Regions from separate parts of the Homo sapiens genome. Here region 1 is linked to region 2. The links come from fine-mapping of genetic effects on gene expression. A gene starts in region 2. The other region holds a variant in brackets. All regions are shown on one strand. Distances are between the middles of the regions.

Evidence for each region. PIP is the estimated chance that this variant, and not a neighbour inherited with it, causes the effect. A credible set is the group of variants that fine-mapping cannot tell apart.
Region 1: its variant is the best candidate, but not a certain one, in a credible set for the expression of DCBLD2 in monocytes after LPS (Fairfax 2014, PIP 0.80).

Annotation. Positions count from the first base shown.
Region 1 is chr3:98,832,044-98,837,417 of GRCh38, reverse strand. All of the region lies in intron 3 of DCBLD2 (discoidin, CUB and LCCL domain containing 2), which reads left to right. Among named protein-coding and RNA genes, the nearest start is that of DCBLD2, 67 kb to the left of the region's middle. The variant AAG/G (reference allele first, on the strand shown) is at 3,274.
Region 2 is chr3:98,899,234-98,904,607 of GRCh38, reverse strand. It overlaps DCBLD2 (discoidin, CUB and LCCL domain containing 2), which reads left to right and starts at 2,913. Exons shown (of 16, transcript NM_080927.4): 1 at 2,913-3,486. The coding sequence starts at 3,282. It overlaps LOC105374002 (a long non-coding RNA gene), which reads right to left and starts at 2,594. Exons shown (of 2, transcript NR_189121.1): 1 at 2,091-2,594. RefSeq lists silencers at 2,595-2,644, 2,785-3,474 and enhancers at 2,582-3,297, 3,298-4,014.

The sequences.
Region 1 (5,374 bases), 67 kb after region 2:
CTGCCCGGCCAGCCACCCCGTCCGGGAGGTGAGGGGCGCCTCTGCCCGGCCGCCCCTACTGGGAAGTGAGGAGCCCCTCTGCCCGGCCAGCCGCCCCGTCCGGGAGGGAGGTGGGGGTGTCGGCCCCCCGCCCGGCCAGCCGCCCCGTCCGGGAGGGAGGTGGGGGGGTCGGCCCCCTGCCCGGCCAGCCACCCCGTCCGGGAGGGAGGTGGGGGTGTCGGCCCCCCGCCCGGCCAGCCGCCCCGTCCGGGAGGGAGGTGGGGGGGTCGGCCCCCTGCCCGGCCAGCCACCCCGTCTGGGAGGGAGGTGGGGGTGTCGGCCCCCCGCCCGGCCAGCCGCCCCGTCCGGGAGGGAGATGGGGGGGGTCAGCCCCCCCGCCCGGCCAGCCGCCCCGTCCGGGAGGTGAGGGGCGCCTCTGCCCGGCCGCCCCTACTGGGAAGTGAGGAGCCCCTCTGCCCGGCCAGCCGCCCCGTCCGGGAGGGAGGTGGGGGGGTCAGCCCCCCGCCCGGCCAGCCGCCCCCTCCGGGAGGGAGGTGGGGGTGTCGGCCCCCCGCCCGGCCAGCCGCCCCGTCCGGGAGGGAGGTGGGGGGGTCGGCCCCCTGCCCGGCCAGCCACCCCGTCCGGGAGGGAGGTGGGGGTGTCGGCCCCCCGCCCGGCCAGCCACCCCGTCCGGGAGGGAGATGGGGGGGTCAGCCCCCCCGCCCGGCCAGCCGCCCCGTCCGGGAGGTGATGGGCGCCTCTGCCCGGCCGCCCCTACTGGGAAGTGAGGAGCCCCTCTGCCCGGCCAGCCGCCCCGTCTGGGAGGTGTGCCCAACAGCTCATTGAGAACGGGCCAGGATGACAATGGCGGCTTTGTGGAATAGAAAGGCGGGAAAGGTGGGGAAAAGATTGAGAAATCGGATGGTTGCGGTGTCTGTGTAGAAAGAAGTAGACATGAGAGACTTTTCATTTTGTTCTGGATCTCAAATTTCATAACGCATGGGCCCTTTTCACCAAAAAATAATTTCCATGGGTTCCAATTGAGTAGCATTAACTGTGGAACTAACGTTCCATGTTATACAAATTTCATCCACAGACTTCCACCTCTGGCAATTACTAACTGGTACCAGATCTACCCTCCTCTGCCACTGTAAACAATCAGAAAACTGAGCAAAATATTGGAGGCAACCATTTTCAGGCAAGGGACAACAGGCAGTGCAGAACCAGAGCACCTGCCGGCAGGGAAGCAGCTGGTAAATATGTGGATACATACAAAACAGCAGCTTTTCTTTTGTCCTCTTAATTTCCTTAAGATGCAAGTGGCTATTTAAAATAATAATATTGCAAGGTGAGGTTTACATACACACACACATACACACACACACAGGAGGACTGATTTATTACTATAAAATGGTGAAATCTATACATAAGTTCAAAAGAATTTAGATTCTCCTCAATGTGAATAAACAAAAATTTAAAAATCTTAAAAAAAAAAAAAAAGAAAGAAAGGAAGGAAGAAAGAAAGAAAGAAAGAAAAATTCATCTCCTCCCCTCATATAAGCACCAAATAATTATAGTAGCATATGGAGTGGCCAGGCGTGGTGGCTCACGCTATAATCCCAGCAGTTTGGGAGGCCAAGGTAGGTGAATCACCTGAGGTCAGGAGCTTGAGACCAGCCTGGCCAACATGGTGAAACCCTGTCTCTACTAAAAATACAAAAATTAGCCAGGCATGGTGGCACGTGCCTGTAGTCCCAGCTACTCGGGAGGCTAAGACGAGAGAATCGCTTGAATCCGGGAGGCAGAAGTTGCAGTGAGCCGAGATTGCACCATTGCACTCAAGGCTGGGCAACAAAAAAGAAACTCTGTCTCAAAAAAAAAAAAAGAAGAAAAAAAAATAGCATACGGAGTGAGAGGATGGATAAGTGAACCTGGCACATATTTGGTGCTCAATAGATGTTTACTGAGTGAAGAATAATTAAATGGCAAGAAAATAGTTATCTTAGAAGAACAAATGAGAAGGGAATCATTTCTGGCTGGGGACACCCAGGAGTTGACATTTGAATTTGACCTTGAACAGTGGGTAGGATGCTTTTGGTGATGAGAAACCCATTCTAGGTAAGGGAGGAATGCCAGGAAAGAGTAGGGACTTAAGAATGTGCGAGTATGCCGGGCGCGGTGGCTCCTGCCTGTAATCCCAGCACTTTGGGAAGTTGAGGCGGACAGATCATCTGAGTTCAGGAGTTCGAGACCAGCCTGACCAACATGGTGAAACCCCATCTCTCCTAAAAATACAAAATTACCCAGGTGTGGTGGCACATGCCTGTAATCCCAGCTACCTGGGAGGCTGAGGCAGGAGAATCGCCTGAACCTGGGAGGCAGAGGTTGCAGTGAGCCAAGATAGGGCCATTGCACTCTAGCCTGGATGACAGAGCAAAACTCTGTCTCAAAAAAATAAAAAAAAAAAAGAATGTGCAAGTTTATAGCAGAAGGGCTGGTGGCCTATTGGGATGGAAAATTTAAAGACAAGCAGTAGGAATCAGTTGGGATTATGACAGGCAGCTTTGGGTTTGAAAAAGGAAGTTCCAGATGTCAAAGCAGTTCAGACTGAGGGGAGGCTTTTAACTTTTTAGGATAACATCTATAAGTTTCAATATATGGAAAAGATATCTGCACTCCCATCTTTATCGCAGCACTATTCACAATAGCTAAAATATAGAATCAATCTAAGTATCCATCAATGGATGAGTGAATAAAGAAAAGGTGATGTATACACAATGGAATATTATTCAGCAATGAAAAAGAATGAGATCCTGTCATTTGCAGCAACAGGCATGGAACTGGAAGTCACTGTGTTGTGAAATAAGCCAAGCATGGATAAGCAAATATCACATGTTCTCACTCATATTTGGGAGCTAAAAACGTAAATCTCATGAAGTTAGAGAATAGACTGGTGGTTACTGGAGGCTGAAAGGGGAGGAGGTGGGGGGATGAAGAGAGGTTGATTAATGGGTACAAATATACAGTTTGATAGAAGAAATAAGACCTGGTGTTTGATAGATCAGTAAGGTGACTATGGTTTACAATAATCTGTTGTATATTTTGAAATAGCTAGAAGGGAATAAAGCAAATGTTTTAGCATAAAGAAAAGTATTCAAGGTGATGAATATCCCAATTACACTGATTTGATCTTTGTGAATTCTATGAATGTATTAAGTTATCATATGTACTCCCCAAAATAGGTACATCTATTATGTATCAATAAAAAAATTTAAAACAAAAAAAAAAAAAAAA[AAG/G]AAAACAACTCTACTCACAGAGAATGGAAAAAAGCAAAGCAGGACAACCACCCACTCAGGAACGACACAGGGCCAGAGGAGCCTCCCCCACCCAGGGAAGTGGTGCTGGAAAATCCGAGGTGACTGGGGACCAGAGCAGGCCCCTAGTTTACTGGAGTAGTCATGGAAAAGTGGCCAGACTGTTTCTTACATGGGTCTCCACTCCCATATCTCCTCACTGGGCAAGTCCTCCAGGCTTGGGTTTCCAGCCTCCCTTCACTGGGACTTTGGAGCCAGTAGCAGCTCTGCAGCAACCTGGGACAGAGCTCCCACTGGGAGGGTGGTGTTTCCATCTTTTCTGCCTTGCAGCCCTCACCTTTGCTGTTTCCAGGCTCTGGAGAGTCCATGGGACTGAAGCCTGGTCTGAACCCCAAGCACAGTACCCATCTCACCAAAAAGTGGTCAGACGGTTCTCCATGTAGATCCTGGTCCTCACTTCTCCTCACTGGACAGGGCTGCCTGACCTGGGACTCCAGCACAACCACTGTACCCCCACCTGACCACTTCAATTAGAGGCAGCCCAGCAGTTAAAGGAACACCCACACAGAGAGATGAGAAAGAACTAACACAAGAACTTCAGCAATTCAAATGGCCAGAGTGTCTTATGTCCTCCTAACGATTGCACTAGTTCACCAATGAGGGTTCTTAACCAGGCTGAGTTGGCTGAAATGACAGAAATAGAATTCAGAATATGCACAGGAATGAAGAGCATCGAGATTCAGGAGAATGGCAAAACCCAATTCAAGGAAACTAAGAATTAACAATAAAACAATACAGGAGCTGGCAGATAAAATAGCCAGTGCAAAAAAGAATCTAACTGACCTGATAGAGCTGAAAAACACACTACAAGAATTTCACAACCCAATTGCAAGTATTAACAGCAGAATAGACCACGCTGAGGAAAGAATCTTGGAACTTGAAGACTGGCTCTCTGAAATAAGAGAGTCAGACAAAAGTAAAGAAAAAAAGAATGAAAAGGAATGAATAAAACCTCTAAGAAATAAGGGATTATATAAAGAAGCCAAATCTGCAAATCACTGATATCCCTGAATTGGATGGGGAGAAAGCAAACAACTTGGAAAACATATTTCAGGATATCATCTATGAAAATTTCCCCAGCCTCGCTAGAGAGGCCAACAGTCAAAATTCAGGAAATACAGAGAACCCCTGCAAGATTCTACACAAGATCTCCCCAAGACACATAATCATCAGATTTTCCAATGTCTAAATAAAAGAATGTTAAAGGCAGCTAGAGAGAAAGGGCAGATCACCAACAAAGGGAACCCCATCAGGCTAGCAACAGACCTCTCAGCTGAAACCCTGCAAACTGGAAGAGATTGGGGACCTATATTTGACATTCTTAAAGGAAAAAAATCTTCAAGAATTTCATAACCAGCCAAACTAAGCTTCCTTAGCAAAGGAGAAATAAGATTCTTGTCAGATAAGCAAATGCTAAGCGAGTTCATTACCACCAGACCCACCTTTCAAGACATCTTGAAGCTAGCACTAAATATGGAAAAGAAAAACCATTAAAACACCACTAGGAAAATACACTCAAGTACACACACCAGTGACACTATAAAGGAACCACACAAACAAGCCAGCATAATAATCAGCTAACAACACAATGACAGGATCATATGCACACATATCAATACTACCCTTGAATGTAAATAGCCTAAATGCCCTATTTAAAAAGGCATAGAGTGGCATGCTGAATAAAAAAGCAAGACCCAATGATACGCCGTCTTCAGGAACCCATCTCACATGCAATGACATCCATAGGCTCAAAATAAAGGGATGGAGGAAAATCTAACAAGCAAATGGAAATCAGAAAAATGCAGGCATTGCAACCCTAATTTCAGACAAAACAGACTTTAAACGAACAAAGCTCAAAAAAGACAAGGGCATTACATAATGTAAAGCATTCAGTTCAACAAGAATACCTAACTATTCTAAATATATATGCACTCAACACAGGAGCACCCAGATTCATAAAGCAAGTTCTTAGAAACCTAAAAAGAGACTTAGGCTCCCACACAATAATAGTGGGAGACTTT
Region 2 (5,374 bases):
CCAGTGACCTAATTCAGAACCTCTTCACCTCTCTAGTCTCTACTTTTAACAACTTTAAAACACTAGACAGTAAGTAAAACAGTGATGAGAAATGTAAGTGCTCCTTCCTCTTGCTTTACACGTATGTAGTCGGGATCTTTTCCTGCTATATTAAAGGGGTAGGGGTTGCTAGAGACCAAATTTTGCCTCTTCCAGAAATGCTCCATAACTGTGCTAGTTCTTAGGTGAATTCTCTGCCTCTGCCACAGTTCTATGTAGTCAATAGAATGCCAGGCTAAGATTCACACTACCTTGCTCTGCCACCACATCTGTGACCTCAAGCTTCTCTTTCAATGGTCCTATGAAAGGAGTGATTCCACATGAAATAGGTTGTCTCAGGCACTACTACTAGAAATCTTATTTCATGACTGACTGCTTGCCACATTAGCACATCATGTCTGATAGGTTCAATTCTGAATTTATGATTTTTAACTTCTACTTCTTTATCCAACCAAACCAATTCTCCTTCTTGTACTCCTTACTGTGGGAAAGACATCACCTTCTACCAGAAACCTGGAGACTTCCTCAACTCCTTACACTCCACATAATCAGTCACCAAGTTTAAAAATATTCCCCTAGTTGGTCCCGCCTTCCCAAGCCCACTTTTAATGCACTAAAAACTCACCATCACTCCCTTTAACTGCAGACTGGCTCTCCCTGGCTTCCAGTCTTGCTCTTACACCAATGTATTCCTCACCCTACTGGCTGATTGGGGTTTTTACAATAAAAACCTGATAATGACCGGGCGCGATGGCTCACGCCGTTATCCCAGCACTTTGGGAGGCTGAGGCGGGTGGATCACCTGAGGTCGGGAGTTCGAGACCAGCCTGACCAACAATGGAGAAACCCCGGCTCTACTAAAAATACAAAATTAGCCGGGTGCGGTGGCACATGCCTGTAATCCCAGCTACTAGGGAGACTGAGGCAGGAGAATCGCTTGAACCCGGGAGGCAGAGGTTGCAGTGAGCCGAGATCATGCCATTGCACTCCAGCCTGGGCAACAAGAGCAAAACTCCATCTCAAAAAAAACAAAAACAAAAACAAAAACAAAAAAAAAACTGACAATGTCATTCTTTCTTAGAACCCTTTAGTTATTTTCCAGTGATACAAAATAAAATCTTGACTCTTAGCTTGCCTTACATCTTGCCCCTCCTAACTTTTCCAGACTAGTCTCCAGTTCCTCCCATTACGTCAGCAGTAGTCAATCCAGCTCCATCAACACCATTCCCTATTGAGCCTGTGACCCAGCCTATTTTGCCTCTGGCCTGAGATCACCTTTTTCACTTTAGTTTCTTATTCAAGACACTGGCATTTCAAACTGACGGGTTTTTTTGAACTCCGTTCACTGTGGTATTGTGGCACCAGTCCACACCTCTAACAGGGCACTAATAACAATAGGTTTGTTTACATGTCACCTCCTCCTCCAGAATGTAAGTTCTTCTCAGTAAACTTTTTATGCCCAATGCCCACAATGGCTTAGAGCATAATAGGGTTTCTTAGGCATTTAATAAATGTTAATTGAATAAATTTGGTTAAAGAGATTATTGTATAAGAAATATGCAGGGGAGTTGAAACATACGACCTCCAAAGTCCTTTCCAACTTAGACTTTCATTGAAGGATATCAGTCCCTTCCATGTTTTTGAATATCACATCTATGTATGACTATGTATACATATGTATATGTATACATGTATGGCTATGTATGACTCCCAGAGCCATAATTTCAAAGCTCTCAATCTGAGCTTTCGACTAAAATATCCATCTGCCTGTTACATAGCTTCACTTATTATCTAAGTTGGCATCTCAAATTCAATACGTCCAAAATTAACTTACTTTCCCACACAACTTGTTCCACCTTAGCAGTTTTTTGTATTTGCTAATGACACCATTGTCCTTTCAGGGACTGCTGTTAAAAACATCCTACATGGCCACTCTCTTCTAAAATAAATCACTGCGTAGACCTCTGCATTCCTCTTTCCTAAAATTCTTTTTGTCGTTCCATAGGCTTACAGTCTCCATCAAACTGCTTGTGACTCTAATTAGCACTTACTTCATTCTGACTTGCATGCTATATTTCCATCTCTGTTCCACATTTCAAGATTTCTGTAGATAGACAGCAGGTGCTCAACAACTCCTTGTAGAATGGCTGCATGAAGGTTGGGATGTTAGGTTTAAATTGCCTTTGCGGCACGGATCTTGTTTTACACTTTTTTGTCCCCCACCCCCCGCCATAAAAAGAGCAGAGAAAACAGGGAACACATATATTAAAAACTGAACACTGCATCTATTATTCTAACTCGGAGCTGTTGCAACAACTGGCGGCAGTTTTAACAAAACAAGCCACGCTCTGCCATTAAAAAAAAAAAAAAAGTCCCTTAGACTCAGCTCCCAGCTAAAACAACCCAGGATCCAGGTTTCCCACCCCCTTCCAGTGGTCTGATGTGCGTCGGAGGAGCGAGGAGAAAGGAGCAAGGAGCAAGCTGGGCCTGAGGAGCAGGGAGCGCGGGATGGGGGACGTCCCGGAAGTCACTGACGAGCTGGCTGCCGCCTCTGCGGGATCAGTTTGGGCTGAGGGCCCAACAATAACAGGCGCCCGGGCCGGGCGGGGGCCGCGGGGATCCGAAGCTGGAGGGCGGGACCTGGATTGGAGGAGGCGGGTGGGACGCCTCCAAAGGCCGAAGGGGATTGGAAGAGGGAGGTAAGGGGCGGTGGAGCTCGAGGAATGGGCCGGAGAACTAGCGGGTCGAGCGAGGAGCGAGCATGCTGATTGGGTTTCGCGGAAGGAGACGGACCAGAGCTGGCCGAGGATTGGCCGCGGTGCCTAGGGGGCGTGGCCGGCGCGCGCGAGAGGGAGCGCGAGGGAGCTGGCTGCGGGCCTGCCTGCCAGCTAGCCGGAGCCGCGGGTGAGCGCGGCGAGCGGCGACCCTGGTGAGGAGCGCGGCGCGGGAGGCACGTTCCTTAGCTCCGCCGCGGCCGTCCTCCGCGGCTCGAGGACTCCGCTTCCTTCCCTCCCCTCCCCTGCGCTCCGGCCTGGGGTCTCGGCGCGGGGAGCGGAGGGAAGGGACGAAGGAGGAGTAGGTGAAAGCGGGGTGAGGGGCGGAAGGGTCCCGGCGCGGGGTGAGGCGAGGGCTGCCTCTTGTTCTCCCGCCGCTGCCGCCGTCTCCTGGTCGGGTGCCGCGGCCAGAGGCGCGCGGGGCTGCCGAGGCACCCGCACTATGCAGGCAGACTGCCGGCCGCCGCGATGGCGAGCCGGGCGGTGGTGAGAGCCAGGCGCTGCCCGCAGTGTCCCCAAGTCCGGGCCGCGGCCGCCGCCCCCGCCTGGGCCGCGCTCCCCCTCTCCCGCTCCCTCCCTCCCTGCTCCAACTCCTCCTCCTTCTCCATGCCTCTGTTCCTCCTGCTCTTACTTGTCCTGCTCCTGCTGCTCGAGGACGCTGGAGCCCAGCAAGGTGAGTGGTCCCAGGGGAGTGAGCGGCGGGGGAACCTCCGTCGGGGCTGCGGGTCTCTTGGCCCCTGAACAAATCTGCAGACGCTGCAGGGAGGCGCGGTGCGCTTTCGTGCGTGGCCGGACCTGGCTGGGTACTCACGGGGTTGAGTTGCAAAGGCAAGGTCTTGCCCGTCTGTCCCCCAAGTTGGCGCGGCTTTACTTTTTGGCAAGGCCATTTATTTTTCTGAAAGGGGGACGTGAGACCCTGCTATGAAAGCCTCGTTGATATTAGGTCCTTCTGGGGAAAATTTTGGGGAGGAAAAAGAACCTTTGGAGGTAATGACCCCTAAAGTTAAGCTGCACGGATGGATGGACACTGTAGGAAGGCAGGTTAATTAAATAGCATCTTAAGCCTATTAAAGGTAAGTGGTGGTAATTATGATCCTTTGTGAAAGAGCCCGGGTTCTGAAGCGAATGGAATAGTTTCTGCTTATCTCTGAGTCTTGGATTCAGAACATGTTCTTTACAATCCATCATTGAGGCTGGTGGTCTAGACTGCCTTGGTCAAACACTGGGTCTGACCCAACGCTATGCTAATTTGCCCAAGTGAAGCTCTCCACATTAAAAAGGTAAGCCTTTCCAGAAAGTGACAAAACTTTTTTTTTTTTCCACCTACAATCCTTGAAAAACCTGTTCCAGAAACAGGCAAAACTGTTTATTAAATACTTATCATAATGGAAGGAGAATGCAGGGTGATTTCTTTTCCCCTTTAGTACTGTTTTCCCGTAGTGTACCACACTTTTTGAATCAGTTTGGCATCAGTTTTTGAAAAGATATTTCCATTGCATTTTCCATTTTATTGCAGTGGGAAGGATAAGGATTGGATTGTTACTTATTGCTAGGAAGAGAGTTTTTTAAAAAGAAAATTGTTCTCTGCCTTTAAGCCCAGCTTTATGTTGCTCTCATGGTTTTCAGTGAAGTATGGAATCATGGCCTGTCATTAAGAAGATGCCGAACCTTGACAGGCATGTGGAAATATAATCTCTGTAACTATAAGGAAAAAATGTATTTGGCAAACTGACCCCTTACATCTAGACACGTTTCTATATAGAGTAACTCAAAATTTAGATGCTTAGCATTTAGGTTTTAGTTAGATCGTCTTCTAAAATTACTGAACATCATCATCATTTAATATATTAAAGTGTGAAATCCTTCTTTCCACTGTAGAGATGTATTTCCCTCCTGGTAGGGGGGAAAACAGGCTTATATATGGCTAACACTTAGGGCTTACTTTGTGGCTGGAACAACTGGACTAAGTGGTTTGGGTTTATTAACTCCTTGAATCTTCACTACAATCAGCTGAGATAGTTATTGTTATCCCAGTTCAAACGTAAGGACATTGAGACACAAAGAATATAAGGTACCTTGATGCAGGAGGGCATATTACTCCATAGGCAGAGTACTCTGCTTTGCTTGTTTCTGGATCTGATAGTGTTTGTATCATGTTATTAAAAAAAATCTTGGAACAGTATAGAATCAGTTACATGTCTACCTTCCAAATGAGGGATTGCCTTGTTTTTAGAAAAGGCCAGTCTACCGGGCGCGGTGGCTCACACCTGTAATCCGAGCACTTTGGGAGGCTGAGGCGGGCAGATCACGAGGTCAGGAGATCGAGACCATCCTGACCAACATGGTGAAACCCCGTCTCTCCTAAAATACAAAAAATTAGCCGGGCATGGTGGCACATGCCTGTAGTCCCAGGTACTCAGGAGGCTGAGGCAGGGGAATCGCTTGAACCCGGGAGGCGGAGGTTGCAGCGATCGCGCCACTGCACTCCAGCCTGGCGACAGAGCGAGACTGTCTCAAAAAAAAAAAAAAAAAAAGAAAAAGAAATAGCCAGTCTAATCAGA